3 linked regions of the Homo sapiens genome follow. The protein of the gene in region 3 purifies or fractionates together with the protein of the main gene of each other region. This does not show direct contact. Each region holds a gene or a part of one and is shown on either strand. Other genes may lie near its edges. The genes, in order: LACRT, PIGR and FN3KRP.

Region 1 (4,217 bases), on a different chromosome or scaffold from region 3:
ATCTCCTGAAAAGATTAATGTTCTAAACCCTGGCACCCAAAACACCCTCATGTTGAAAACTCTTCAATACCCCCTTCTCACACTCATCTTCAGAGCTACCATGAGGCAGAGAAGCCTCCGGAATCAGCCCACATGGGGCTGGGTGAATGCCAACACCAAGCAAGGGGAAAGTCACAAATTGACATCCAGCACCTTATTCTCCACCCTTCAGCCCCTCAACTGACTCCTGCTCCACGGCCCGTTCTATTAATATCTAGCATTTAGCACCAGCCTGGACAAAAACCTACTTGGAAAGATGGTACAAGAACCCCACACAACTCCATAGAACTTCGCTGTCTAAAAAAATGCTTTGCCGTATATTATCCCACTTAATCTCCACCACTATGCTGTACATAGGAGCCACAACTCCTAGACAACAAATAAAAATCCTATCACTTTTCAAATCCTAACATTTTCATATGACAAAGCCAGAACTCAAAATCCAGACCTCTAGAGTCCCAGATCAGGAAAGGAAGAAACGCCAAGTCAAAGAGAAGCTTCTTTAGAATAATCTGCTTTTCTGGATTATTCACACCATGGGTCAGCTCCCCACTTGAAGTCAGAACCAAGCTCCAATTTCAGTGAACCACCATCATGCTTTGACCAGGAGATTCTCTCAGAAATGTGGGGTCCCATTGAGTAGGCCTGAAGACAGAGATTGACAGGCCTATGTGAGCCTGGAGGAGTTCTTTTTAGGGGCTGGATAATGTCAAGAACAGAGAACAACTCCAGAGAAGGCACACACGCCTTCAAACCCATCCCCTCATGGGGAGAAAGCAGCCAGGAACTCAGGCCTCAAGTGTTCTAGGTGTGGTCTCCCAAGGAAACGGGCTCACTTAGTTTGGGGAAACCTTCAAACCCTGCACTGAGTCCTATGTAGACTGGGACAGAAGGTGGACAATGTAATCCCCTGAGCCCTCAACCTCCTCCTGGAGAGATGACAAGATTAAGATTTCTCTACCAGAACCCTCAACAGACACATCCCAGAATCTCCCCAAGTGAAATGTGCTCTACCTACCGTCCCTGAGAGCCCAGGGGTGTGAACCCAGAGGGCAGGTGTGGTGGGGAAGGGAGGAGGGAGAAAGAAAAGGGATGGCTGGGAGTTAGAGAAAGGCTCCTATCCAGGACCTGCCTGCAAGGATCCCAGGTATCAGCCAGCCCAACCTAGCCCTTGTTGACTTAGCAGGTGACAGTTTGGGGAAGAAGGGGAGGAGGATGCGGAAGTCACACCTCTCCAGGCTTGGTTCCCATTGGCCCTTGATATCCTTAAAAGGGCCCAGCAATTTCAGCATCCTTATTCCCCAGACCTTCTGCAGATTCTGTGGTTATACTCACTCCTCATCCCAAAGAATGAAATTTACCACTCTCCTCTTCTTGGCAGCTGTAGCAGGGGCCCTGGTCTATGCTGGTGAGTATGGCCTTTCCTCTGCGCCCCACAAGAGTCCTCCCAGTCCAAGGAGCCCCTCACTCCTGCCTTCACCCCTCTCCTCCTCTCTCAGTGCTATTCTGGTTTCCCTGCCTCTGCAAGTGACTCCTCTCCCAGTTCTCCACACGTGGCCTCTGCACCCCACTGGCCAGAGGAACCCAGAACTCTCTGGCCTCTGCCTGCCCTCCCAGCTCATCTCCTCACACACCATTGTTTACCCACTATGCCTCAGCTACACTGGCTTCTCTGGTGTCCCCTGCATGTAGTTGAGCAGGGTGTCCCCTACACGAGGGTGCCCAGGCAAGGAGTGGTAGAAGCTAAAATCTGGCCGACACTCTACTTGCCAAGCAGTGAGCCTGGCCCCTGGCTGTGTCTCTTAGGAGGAAGGGATGCCTTTTTTTTTTTTTTTTTTTTGAGACCGAGTCTCCCTCTGTTGCCCAGGCTGGAGTGCAGTGGCACGATCTCTGCTCACTGCAACATCCACCTCCTGGGTTCCAGCGATTATCTTGCCTCAGCCTCCTGGGTAGCTGGGACTACAGGCTCATGCCACCTTGCCCAGCTAATTTTGTATTTTTAGTAGAGACGGTGTTTCACCATGTTGGCCAGGTTGGTCTCGAACTCCTGACCTCAGGTGATCCGACTGCCTTGGCCTCCCAAAGTGTTGGAATTACAGGCGTGAGCCACCGTGCCCTGCTGGGATGCCTTTTTTGATCCACAGAAGCACTATTTGGGCCATGATGATCCTGCTGTTCCTTGAACATCAGGATCTTCCTTCTTGTCCTTTCCTCGTCTAGAATGCTTTCCCTCTCCCTGGCCCCTTCCCCCAACCAACTCTAATGTCACCTGGCCAATGATTTTTCATCTAGAAAATCTCAGTTTACATATAATTCCCCAAAAAGGCCTTCCATGCACATGCGGAACAAATCAGATCCATGTGCCCTTCTCGCACCAGGCTGCACGTTCCCTTCCAGCACTGTCACACCAGCCATTAAATAATTTCGTAAAAGGACAGATGTAAGCTCTGTCAGGGCAGGGGTCTTGTCTGCCCTCTTCAGCACTGCACCTCCATCTCTTGGCACAGAGCTTTGCATAAATGTTGTGTTGAAAGAATAAAGGGAATCAAGGCTGGGGTCTCAATCCTGCAAATCGCTCAAATATGGCCCCATAACCCCCACATACTGTCCTCCTCCACCACAGAGGAGGTTGAGCCCCTCTGACCATGGCCAGCTCCATGACAGACACCTCAGGGAAGCCTACCAAGCCAGGGGCCAGTCAGGAGGAAGGCACTGTTCCAAGAGACATTACACTTCTCAGAGGGGAAGTTATTTCAAAAGCCACAGGAGTTAAACATCAGAGAGTGCCCCAGTAGACCCGCTGATATGGTGGAAGGGCATGTCCAACCCAAAGGGAAATTGATCCCCTTCTATCCATGAGCATTCCCAGGAGATAAGCTTTGGGAATGGGAGGGGAGGGTGGCTCGAGTAGGTCCGGTTCGGTCCTTGCTCTCATCTGGCATGTTTCCCCCATTGCAGAAGATGCCTCCTCTGACTCGACGGGTGCTGATCCTGCCCAGGAAGCTGGGACCTGTGAGTCCTCCTCTCCCTGCTGCCCTAGCCCTCGTTGGGAAGGTTTAACAGTTAGGGATGTGAGTGGTGGCTGGGAGAAGAAGCCAGTGGGAGGAGATCTGGATTCTGTGCTTGGTGGTAATGGGGAGGGGCAGGTAATATAATAAAGAAGGTGGCATGGGTTGAAATGGTACAAGGCTAAGGACAAAAGAGGATGACCCAGAGAGGCAAGGACAATAGGGAGCATGGGGAAAAGGTTATTGTGAATAAAAGGGAGAGAAACATGAGGTTAAGTGGTAAGGGCAATGTCTCACATGGCATTAATACCTTCACCTGCAAACACCTCCCATTACTCCCAATTCCTTAGCAAGATAACCATTATCTGGCCTCTAACCTCATTTTCCAACCCCATTTTCCATGACTCTCTTTTATGTCGCACCCACATCAGCTAAATTGAACTTGTTTCCATTCCCCACACATGCCTTCGCCTGACCTCTTACTCACTGCCTGCCCCCAGGGAAGCCCCTTTGGTACATCCTCTCCTGCTAACATCCTGCCTTCAAGATCCAGCTTCTCTATGAAGTGCTCCCCGATTCTCACCATCCCCTAGTCCAAATCCTTCCCCAACCCTGCCCGCTGCATTCCAAGAGACACACAGCATGCAGAAATGCTATCTCCCTTAAGGGGGCAGCGTTTAAGCCATATCACTTCTGTATCCTGGCACCCAGCACACATTAGGTATCCTGGGGCCCTGCAACCCATTCCAAAAGAAACAAACACTTTCACTTTGCTAAAATCCATCAATTTGTGCATTCACAGCTAAGCCTAATGAAGAGATCTCAGGTCCAGCAGAACCAGCTTCACCCCCAGAGACAACCACAACAGCCCAGGAGACTTCGGCGGCAGCAGTTCAGGGGACAGCCAAGGTCACCTCAAGCAGGCAGGAACTAAACCCCCTGAGTAAGTCTCTGTCTCTATGCCAGATCAACAACCTAGAAAAGTCTCTGGCTGCAGGCCCACATCACACCTCCACGCACAGAGATAAGCCTGGTGAGAAGCAGGTAGACTCAAACAGCTGAACACAAAGGCACAAATGGGATTGTGCATTGCACCCACACACAACGTTTTCACAATAGTAGATGTTGCAGCCTGCACAATACATGGTTTCTGTCCTGGCTCACACAACT
Region 2 (4,409 bases), on a different chromosome or scaffold from region 3:
GCAGGAGTGTAAGCTGTGCTGAAGGATAGTTTTTCTTTTTATAAAATGTATTTAACTAGCTCCTGTTCAGTTAAAGTGACTGCACTTCATCTCTCATGGTGTGGAGTCCAAACCTTTGTCCATCTAATCTCAGGTTTCCCTCTTTTTCAGAGGAAGAAAGGTCCCCTGGACTTGGTATGAGAGTAGAAGTCTGCTTGCTGGACATCCTTTGAAGATAGAGAGATGGAGAGTGAGCTACTTAGGTTGGACTCATGTGGATAAGAGAGGAGACAAGCACTATGGGCTAGGCTAGAAGAACGTACGCTGAGTCCTTTCCAGGTGCTTTACATGTGTTAATGTGTTCCATTTTTACAGCCACCATAGGAGATGGGACAAAATGGGCAACCCCATTTCATGAGTGAGATAATTGAGGCACAGAGAGGTGAGACATTTGCCCAAGGTTGCACAGTTGGTAAGTGACTTAGATGGGATTCTAGATCAAGAGCATAGGCCCTTAGCCACTCTGCTTTACCTCAGAGGGTCTTCCTATTGAGAGGAAGCAGTGGAGAGAGGAAGAAGCAGGATATTCAATCTTAGCGAACTGAGAATTTGTTCAGTTCTTTCCTCTCTGCCTTTCACGGAAAAGGCAGTTCTTATAAGGAGACACCTGGGGCCGGGCGTAGTGGCTCACGCCTGTAATCCCAGCACCTTGGGAGGCTGAGGTGGGTGGATCATGAGGTCAGGAGTTCAAGACCAGCCTGGCCAACATGGTAAAACCCCATCTGTACTAAAAGTGCAAAAGTTAGCTGGGTGTGGTGGCATGGGTCTGTAATCCCAGCTACTCAGGAGGCTGAGGTAGGAGAATCGCTGGAACCCAGGAGGTGGAGGTTGCAGTAAGCCAAGATCACGCCACTGCATTCCAGCCTGGGTGACAGGGCAAGATTCCATCTCAAAAAAATAAAAAATTAAAAAATGAAGAGACACCTGGACCCAGAGGTAGGTGCCAACAGAGAAATTTCTTCCTGGAAAATATTAGCTGCTATTTATTTAGCACCTACCATGTGTAGGATATGTTACATAACCATGGGTATAACCAGGCATGTTGACGCCAAAGCCTCTTTCCACTCCACCATACTGTGTCGATGCCAGTGACATTGGGACTCCAGCCCCAGCCCCTCCAGAGAGAGGGCAAGACATAGATGAAGGTCTCTGCTGAGCACAATGCATAGGTATTTTTTTTTAAGTTGGATAGTTTGCTTTTTAGGTGACATCAAAATGTCCTCATGACCATATCAAAATGGCTGTACCAAAACCTCATCGTTCAAACTTGCTGGTGACTTCACACCACTCACATAGACTCACGGTGTCTTGGTTTCCTCAACTAGGGAATGACATCACAAAACCAACCCTGCCTACCTCCTCGTTGGTATCAAGGGAGAATGAGACGAAGGTGTGAAAGCCCAGGGCAAGTGGGTTTACTAAATGGAAGCCTGTGTGACCCCATTTTTTATCACCTAAAGCCACAGAGGTCTAGCGGCACTAGGAGATAAGCAGAGAGAGTTGCTTTCCTGACTCCTGGCTCAGTGTTCTTTCTGCTACTTTAGCACATCCAGGGGCGGGACAAGGATGGAGAGAGAATTCCAGATCTGGCTCTGGGAAGACCTATGTCCAGGCACCAGACAGCTGCCTTCTACCTAAACCCCTGAAATTGGCATCTCCTCTCCAGATGTTAAAGGATCTATAATTCCCCTAGTGAAGGGGGAAAGTGATGGCACAAAATAGGAGCAGCTTCAATGGCCCCAGGCACTGTGGCAATTGCACAAAGGGAACTGGGGGTCAGGGATGGAGCTTGACCCGCTGCTGCCCTTGTGCCGGACGGTCCCACTGCTGGCTTGGGCTGCTGTCAGGATGGGCAAAGGGAGGGGAAGCCCATGTCTGAGATCTGCTGGCTGCAGAGCCAGGAGGAACAGCAGGAGTTGATCATGCTGCCTGTGGGGCTCAGCTCCACCTCACTCAGTGATCCCGTGAGGACCTCTTTTTTTCTACCTCTAGGAAGGGCAGGATGATGCGATGACACACATTTATGTCTCCCATGGCAGGAATCTGCTAGAGCAAAGCGAGGTGGAATTGCAAAGGATTTCAGAGGTTCTTGGAAGCCCAGAAAAAAGGAGCTGAACATGCCTTTGCCAGAAAGCCACAAGTGGGAAACCTCAAAGAATGGAAGAGGACTTGCTAGGTGCCATACTTTATGCGCACTATCTAATTCCAGGTCTGTTGGTGTTCAATAAATCCTTGATTAATTAAACTAAACTGAAAAATATGAAACAATTCCTATTTCATTCTAGAGGTTACAAAGCTATTTCACCTGTGTTTTCTCATTTGAACCCACATTGACCCTGAATGATAGGTGTTATTTCTATCTTTGTTTTACAGATTAAGAAACTGAGGATCAGAGAGGTTAGGTGGCTTGTCTAAGGCCACACAGTTAATCAACTATGAGGAGTTAGGAAATCCAGGCACAGACCAAGCTGAAAGAGTAGAATTACATATGCTGACCACAGAGGTCCCTTCCCACCTGCTGATATTTCTCAGAAAAGGATGGGGGGCTTCCACACACGTGCATCCCTACTCGTCCCACTGCGATATGCACGCTTACTCCCCAGCCACACACAGTCACACAGTCTGCCTCCTTGTCCTTGTCACCCCACTATCTAGGAGACTGGGAGTTGGGAATGGAGGGGGTTACCTGAGCCATCGTCCCGAGCCCTTTCCAGATAGCATCCCGTCTGGGGATCCCAGAGCAGTAACACTTACTTTTAGCCACTTCCTTCTCTCCCGTTGATCTGACTTCAGGGACACAGCCTGCTGGCCAGTTGGTAACCCCTGCCTCTCTAGGAGCTACTGGCAGGGCACTGGACGCTGCTGCCAAAACTGAAACTCTGCTCAGTGTTTGACCCACACCTGGGCTCTTAAAGGGCCACTCTCCCACAGGCACCGTGGCCAGCCAGGGTCATGTGACTCTCACAGATCCCTTGCTTTCCTTTCATTTTGGCCTTCCTGGCTGGCTCCATTTGGTTTCCTTTGACCTTGGGGAGACTCTGTTACTTGGGAATCCTCCATCGTTGCAGCTTCAGGATGAGGGACAGAATGTCAAGCGTGAAGATGCTGTTCTGTCGCTTTCTAGCTGCAAGACCTTTGGCAAGTCACCTTCCTATTTCTTTTCATCTGGAAAAGAGGGATGGTAATACCAAATCTACAGGTAGAGGATATAGCCCGGTATTAGCTCTAAAATACCTGGCCCAATGCTTGATTTGAAGTTGACATCATCTGATGGGGCACAGGTGGCAGGAGTGGCTGTCGTAGTCCTTGGTCTCATATCCCCAGTTGCTCTGGAATCCCCTCCGACTCCCTAGGTTACTTAGCCTGGACAAAAATGCCCCTTATACACCTCCTGCCAAGCCCCTTTTACCAGTCCCAGAGCTCCAGGAACTGGCAGGACTGTGGCCCTTCCTGTTTCACTCCCCAGAGTCATGAAAGACTCGCTGCTTCTGGGCTCCCCTGAACATGGCTGACCTCAGAGTCTTGTTAGGACCCGGGCTCGGCTCCATAGCAAGGACGGTGCTGACCTGCTGAGCTGAAGTAGCACCTCCTTCCCTATCTGTTAGTCCATGCCAAAACATGACCTGGTTGGGACTCCCAGGTGTTCCCCAAATGATCGTGGCAGTCCTGTGACAAAAGTGAAGCCCACTCCCCAACACACACGTGTATGGCCCCCCGACCCCTCACTGCAAACCCCCACAGAAATGCTGCCCATCCTACCTGTGCAGGGCTGACCCAGGCTCTCCCTACAGAGTCCTATAGGCCAAACACCAGAAGGGGAAGGAAAAATAGAGAAATAGAGCCCTGGAGAAACACAAGGCAGCCAGAGCCCTGGGTCTTATTTTAGCTAACCACTGGCTCACTTGTGGGTGTTAACACACAATCACAGATTTCAATGGCAAGCAAAAAAACCCCATAATTTCTTTATGTAGCTTAATTTCTCTCTTTTTTTGTGGTTTGCAAACTTAGATTTTCTTTTTTTATTTTGTTTTAGGTTCCAGGATTACATGTGCAGAACGTGCAGGTTTGTGACACAGGTAAACGTGTGCCATGATGGTTTCCTGCACCCGTCAACCCACCACCTAGGTATTAAGCCCCACATGCATTAGCTATTAGTTCTAATGCTCTCCCTCCCCCCACCCCCCCCAACAGGCCCGGATGTGTAATGTTCCCCTCCCTGTGTCCGTGTGTTCTCATTGTTCAGCTCCCATTTATGAGTGAGAACATGTGGTGTTTGGTTTTCTGTTCCTGTGTTAGTTTGATGAGGATGATGGCTTCCAGATGTAGCTTAATTTCAAACCCTAAACCCATAATCTGACTGATAAAAGAAA
Region 3 (3,645 bases):
ATGCGGAGGGAAGCCACCATAAAATCACACAACCAAAAGTGACAAACCCTTGTCATTCCACCCTCTTTGAGAGTTTAGTATACCTAAAACATTTGTTAAATTCCCTCATTTTTACCCACCTTGAAATCCAGCTCCTAACTTGCTGGTCCTCCTCAGTTTCTTCATGCTTACCTAGCATATTAGGTGGGTCAATCTTACGTCAACCTCTCAAACATCAGCAAAGAAAAAATGGTGCAAATACTTTTACTGAAGCTCACAAAAAAAGGAGGGGGGTGTGTCCCCCCAACCCGTGTGTCTGAACAGCTGACCTGATTGTGAAATAGAAGCAAACGCCGTGCACTCACCTGGGGGAGGTATCCACAGCACGTCACCACGTCAAATCCAAACCGGGCCACAAAGGGCCGTTCCTCCTGCCCACCTCCTCTCCCTTGCAAGCAAAAGTAAAAGAAAGGAAATTAGTTCCAAGGGATCCCAGCGCCCACTCTCGAAACTGAGTCACCTTCAGACACGACCTCAGCGAGCTCCTACCAGCTTATGCCCCTGCCAGAGACAAACAGGGCCTGGGTCTCCACCAGCTCACACAACACCCCTAACAGAGCCTGCTCCAGCAGATGTCAGCATCAAAAACACTAGGAGCCTGTGGCCTCCAGCAGACGTCAGCATCAAAGACACTAGCTGCTCCCGAGCAGGGGCACCAGAGGACACACACAGGACAGGCAGCCTGCGGGCACCTCTCAGGGGACCTGTCTCACATCCCAACACGCGGGGGTGTGGGGGAAGACCACACTGTGTCAGGAAACAAAGGGGAGGATGTTCTTAAAGAGGAAAGGCACTTTGGGAGGCTGAGGTGGGCGGATCACCGGAGGTCAGCAGTTCGAGACCAGCCTGCCCAACGTGGTGAAACCCTGTCTCTACTGAACATATAAAAATTAGCTAGGCATGGTGGCAGGCGCCTATAATCCCAGCTACTCGGGAGGTTGAGGCAGGAGAATCACTTGAACCCGGGAGGCGGAGGTTGCAGTGAGCCGAGATCGCTCCATTGCACTCCAGCCTGGGCAACGAGAGTGAAACTCCGTCTCAAAAAAAACCATAAAAATGGCCGGGCACAGTGGTTCATGCCTGTAATCCCAGCACTTTGGGAGGCCAAGGCAGGTGGATCACCTGAGGTCGGGAATTTGAGACCAGCCTGACCAACATGGAGAAACCCCATCTCTACTACAAATACAAAATTAGCTGGGCATGGTGGCGCATGCCTGTAATCCCAGCTACTCAGAAGGCTGAGGCAGGAGAATCACTTGAACCCAGGAGGCGGAGGTTGCGGTGAGCTGAGATCGCGCCACTGCACTCCAGCCTGGGCAACAAGAGCAAAACTCCATTTCAAAAAAAACAAAACAAAACAAAACATAAAAAACATAAAAAGTAAAAAACAGGCCAGGCCCAGTAGCTCATGCCTGTAATCCCAGCACTTTGGGAGGCCGAGGCAGGTGGATCACGAGGTCAGGAAGTCGAGACCATCCCGGCTAACACGGTGAAACCCTGTCTCTACTAAAAATACAAAAAATTAGCCAGGCGTGGTGGCAGGCGCCTGTAGTCCCAGCTACTTAGGAGGCTGAGGCAGGAGAATGGCGTGGACCCGGGAGGCGGAGCTTGCAGTGAGCAGAGATCATGCCACTGCACTCCAGCCTGGGGAACAAAGCAAGACTCCTTCTCAAAAAAATAAAATAAAAATAAATAAATAAAGAGGAAAAAGAATCTGCCCCCAATCCATCAGAAAGGATGGCTCTCAGTGGCAAACCTGGTGCCATGTGTGTCAGATAAACTATTGTGCTTTGAAATAATCTCAGGCAGGGTGCAGTGGCTCACGCCTGTAATCCCAGCACTTTGGGAGGCTGAGGTGGGTGGATCACCTGAGGTCAGGAGATTGAGACCAGCCTGGCCTACATGGTGAAACCCCGTCTCTACTAAAAATACAAAAATTAGGTGGGCACAGTGGCATGCACCTGTAATCCCAGCTACTCAGGAGGCTGAGGCAGGAAAATCGCTTGAACCCAGGAGGCAGAGGTCACGGTGAGCCAAGATTGCACCACTGCCCTCCAGCCTGGGGGACAAGAGTGAAACTCCGTCTCAAAAAAAAGAAAGAAAGAAAGAAAGAATCTCACTCCTCTGCAGTCTCCCTAATTCAAGGAAAATCCCAATGGACTAAACTCCGTTAAGACTGGAAGAGACAGGACAGGCGACCTGGGAGGCCTCTCAGTGGATCCTCACCACACAGGCCGCCTGGGTGGATCCGTCATGGACCCTCACAGAACAGACTAACAGCATGTCTCCGTCTCCTACAGCAGGCCCCTGGTGATCTGTTCCGATCATCAGCAAATCTCCCCACATTTACCATGTGGGCTGCACACGGATTCCAAATGTCAGCAGATTAAAATACCGGAAAATTCCCTCGATCCTGACAGCGCGTTATGCTCTGGAAAGGTCAGACATGATGGCTGTAATTCTGAGCCTCAAGTATGACTGTTTTACAGGAACAGACCCTGGGTTAAAGGTCTTGCCTTTTACAGACAGCCAGAGAGCCTCTGCTTACACTCTTCTGGGGAACGAGAGGTAAAAGTAACTGTAACACTAGGGGTGTCTTGTGTCCAGCAAATGTTTTCATCTTTCAAATGCATTTAGGACACAACAGACGCATCACAGTCACTGTGTTCAGTGCACCGTGAGATGCGGCTCAAGGCCGACATTCCCTTGCTCTGCCATCAGCCCACGTCCGACCCTCCCACGGCTGCTGCACGGCCCCCGCTCTGAGCCCACACCGGCTGAACGTCCTCCTCTAGGCGGGAGCACCCGTGGCCCGCGCAGTGCCATACCCACTGTGCCCGCCTCCTTCAGGCGCATCTCTCCAAGCTTCTTGTTATCAAGGTGTAAATCGGCCAGCTGGGCTCCAAGCTTTGCAGCATGACTGTCAAATCAAACGACAGCAACTAAACAGATGACACACAGAATGGCAACACACCCACTGCTCAGTCTCAGGGCACATAAAGAGGGTCAAACTTTTTTATTTTTTTGAGATGGAGTCTCGCTCTGTCACCCAGGCTGGAGGGCAGTGGCACGATCTCGGCTCACTGCAAGCTCCGCCTCCCAGGTTCAAGCGATTCTCCTGCCTCAGCCTCCCGAGTAGCTGGGATTACTGGTGCCCGCCACCATGCCTGGCTAATTTTTTTGTATTTTTAGTAGAGGCAGGGTTTCACTGTGTTGGCCAGACTGGTCTCAAACTCTGACCTCAAGTCATCCGCCCACCTTGGCCTCCCAAAGTGCCGGGATTAGAGGCGTGAGCCACCACAGCCGGCTAGTAGGTCGGACATTTTGAGGACAGAAAGTAGGTTCTGGTGAAGCAAGAGGGGGATAAAGGTGTTGATTATTTGACGATCTTTCCCAGCCTCATCCAAGTTTGCAGTGGTTTTTTTTTCCTCTTTTTTGAGACTGAGTCTCGCTCTACTGCCCAGGCTAGAGTGCAGTGGTGCGATCTCAGCTCACTGCAACCTCTGCCTCCTGCGTTCAAGTGATTCTCCTGCCTCAGCCTCCCGAGTAGCTGGAATTAGAGGCGCCTGCCACCACATCCAGCTAATTTTTGGATTTTTGGTAGAC

What was found.
Region 1: the proteins of FN3KRP (region 3) and LACRT purify together in Homo sapiens (affinity purification with mass spectrometry; 3 studies listed by BioGRID and IntAct, with this or other methods). This does not show direct contact.
Region 2: the proteins of FN3KRP (region 3) and PIGR purify together in Homo sapiens (affinity purification with mass spectrometry, with the first as the bait; one large-scale study listed by BioGRID). This does not show direct contact.

The regions. Positions count from the first base shown.
Region 1 is NC_000012.12:54,632,014-54,636,230, reverse strand, and holds the start of LACRT (extracellular glycoprotein lacritin precursor), read left to right. Parts: upstream 1-1,335; 5' UTR 1,336-1,389; coding exon 1,390-1,447; intron 1,448-2,997; coding exon 2,998-3,051; intron 3,052-3,849; coding exon 3,850-3,990; intron 3,991-4,217. UniProt on the Homo sapiens protein: Modulates secretion by lacrimal acinar cells.
Region 2 is NC_000001.11:206,943,543-206,947,951, forward strand, and holds the start of PIGR (polymeric immunoglobulin receptor precursor), read right to left. Parts: upstream 2,925-4,409; 5' UTR 2,794-2,924; exon of another isoform or gene 2,726-2,793; intron 1-2,725.
Region 3 is NC_000017.11:82,719,586-82,723,230, reverse strand, and holds part of FN3KRP (ketosamine-3-kinase), read right to left. Parts: intron 2,960-3,645; coding exon 2,868-2,959; intron 428-2,867; coding exon 345-427; intron 1-344.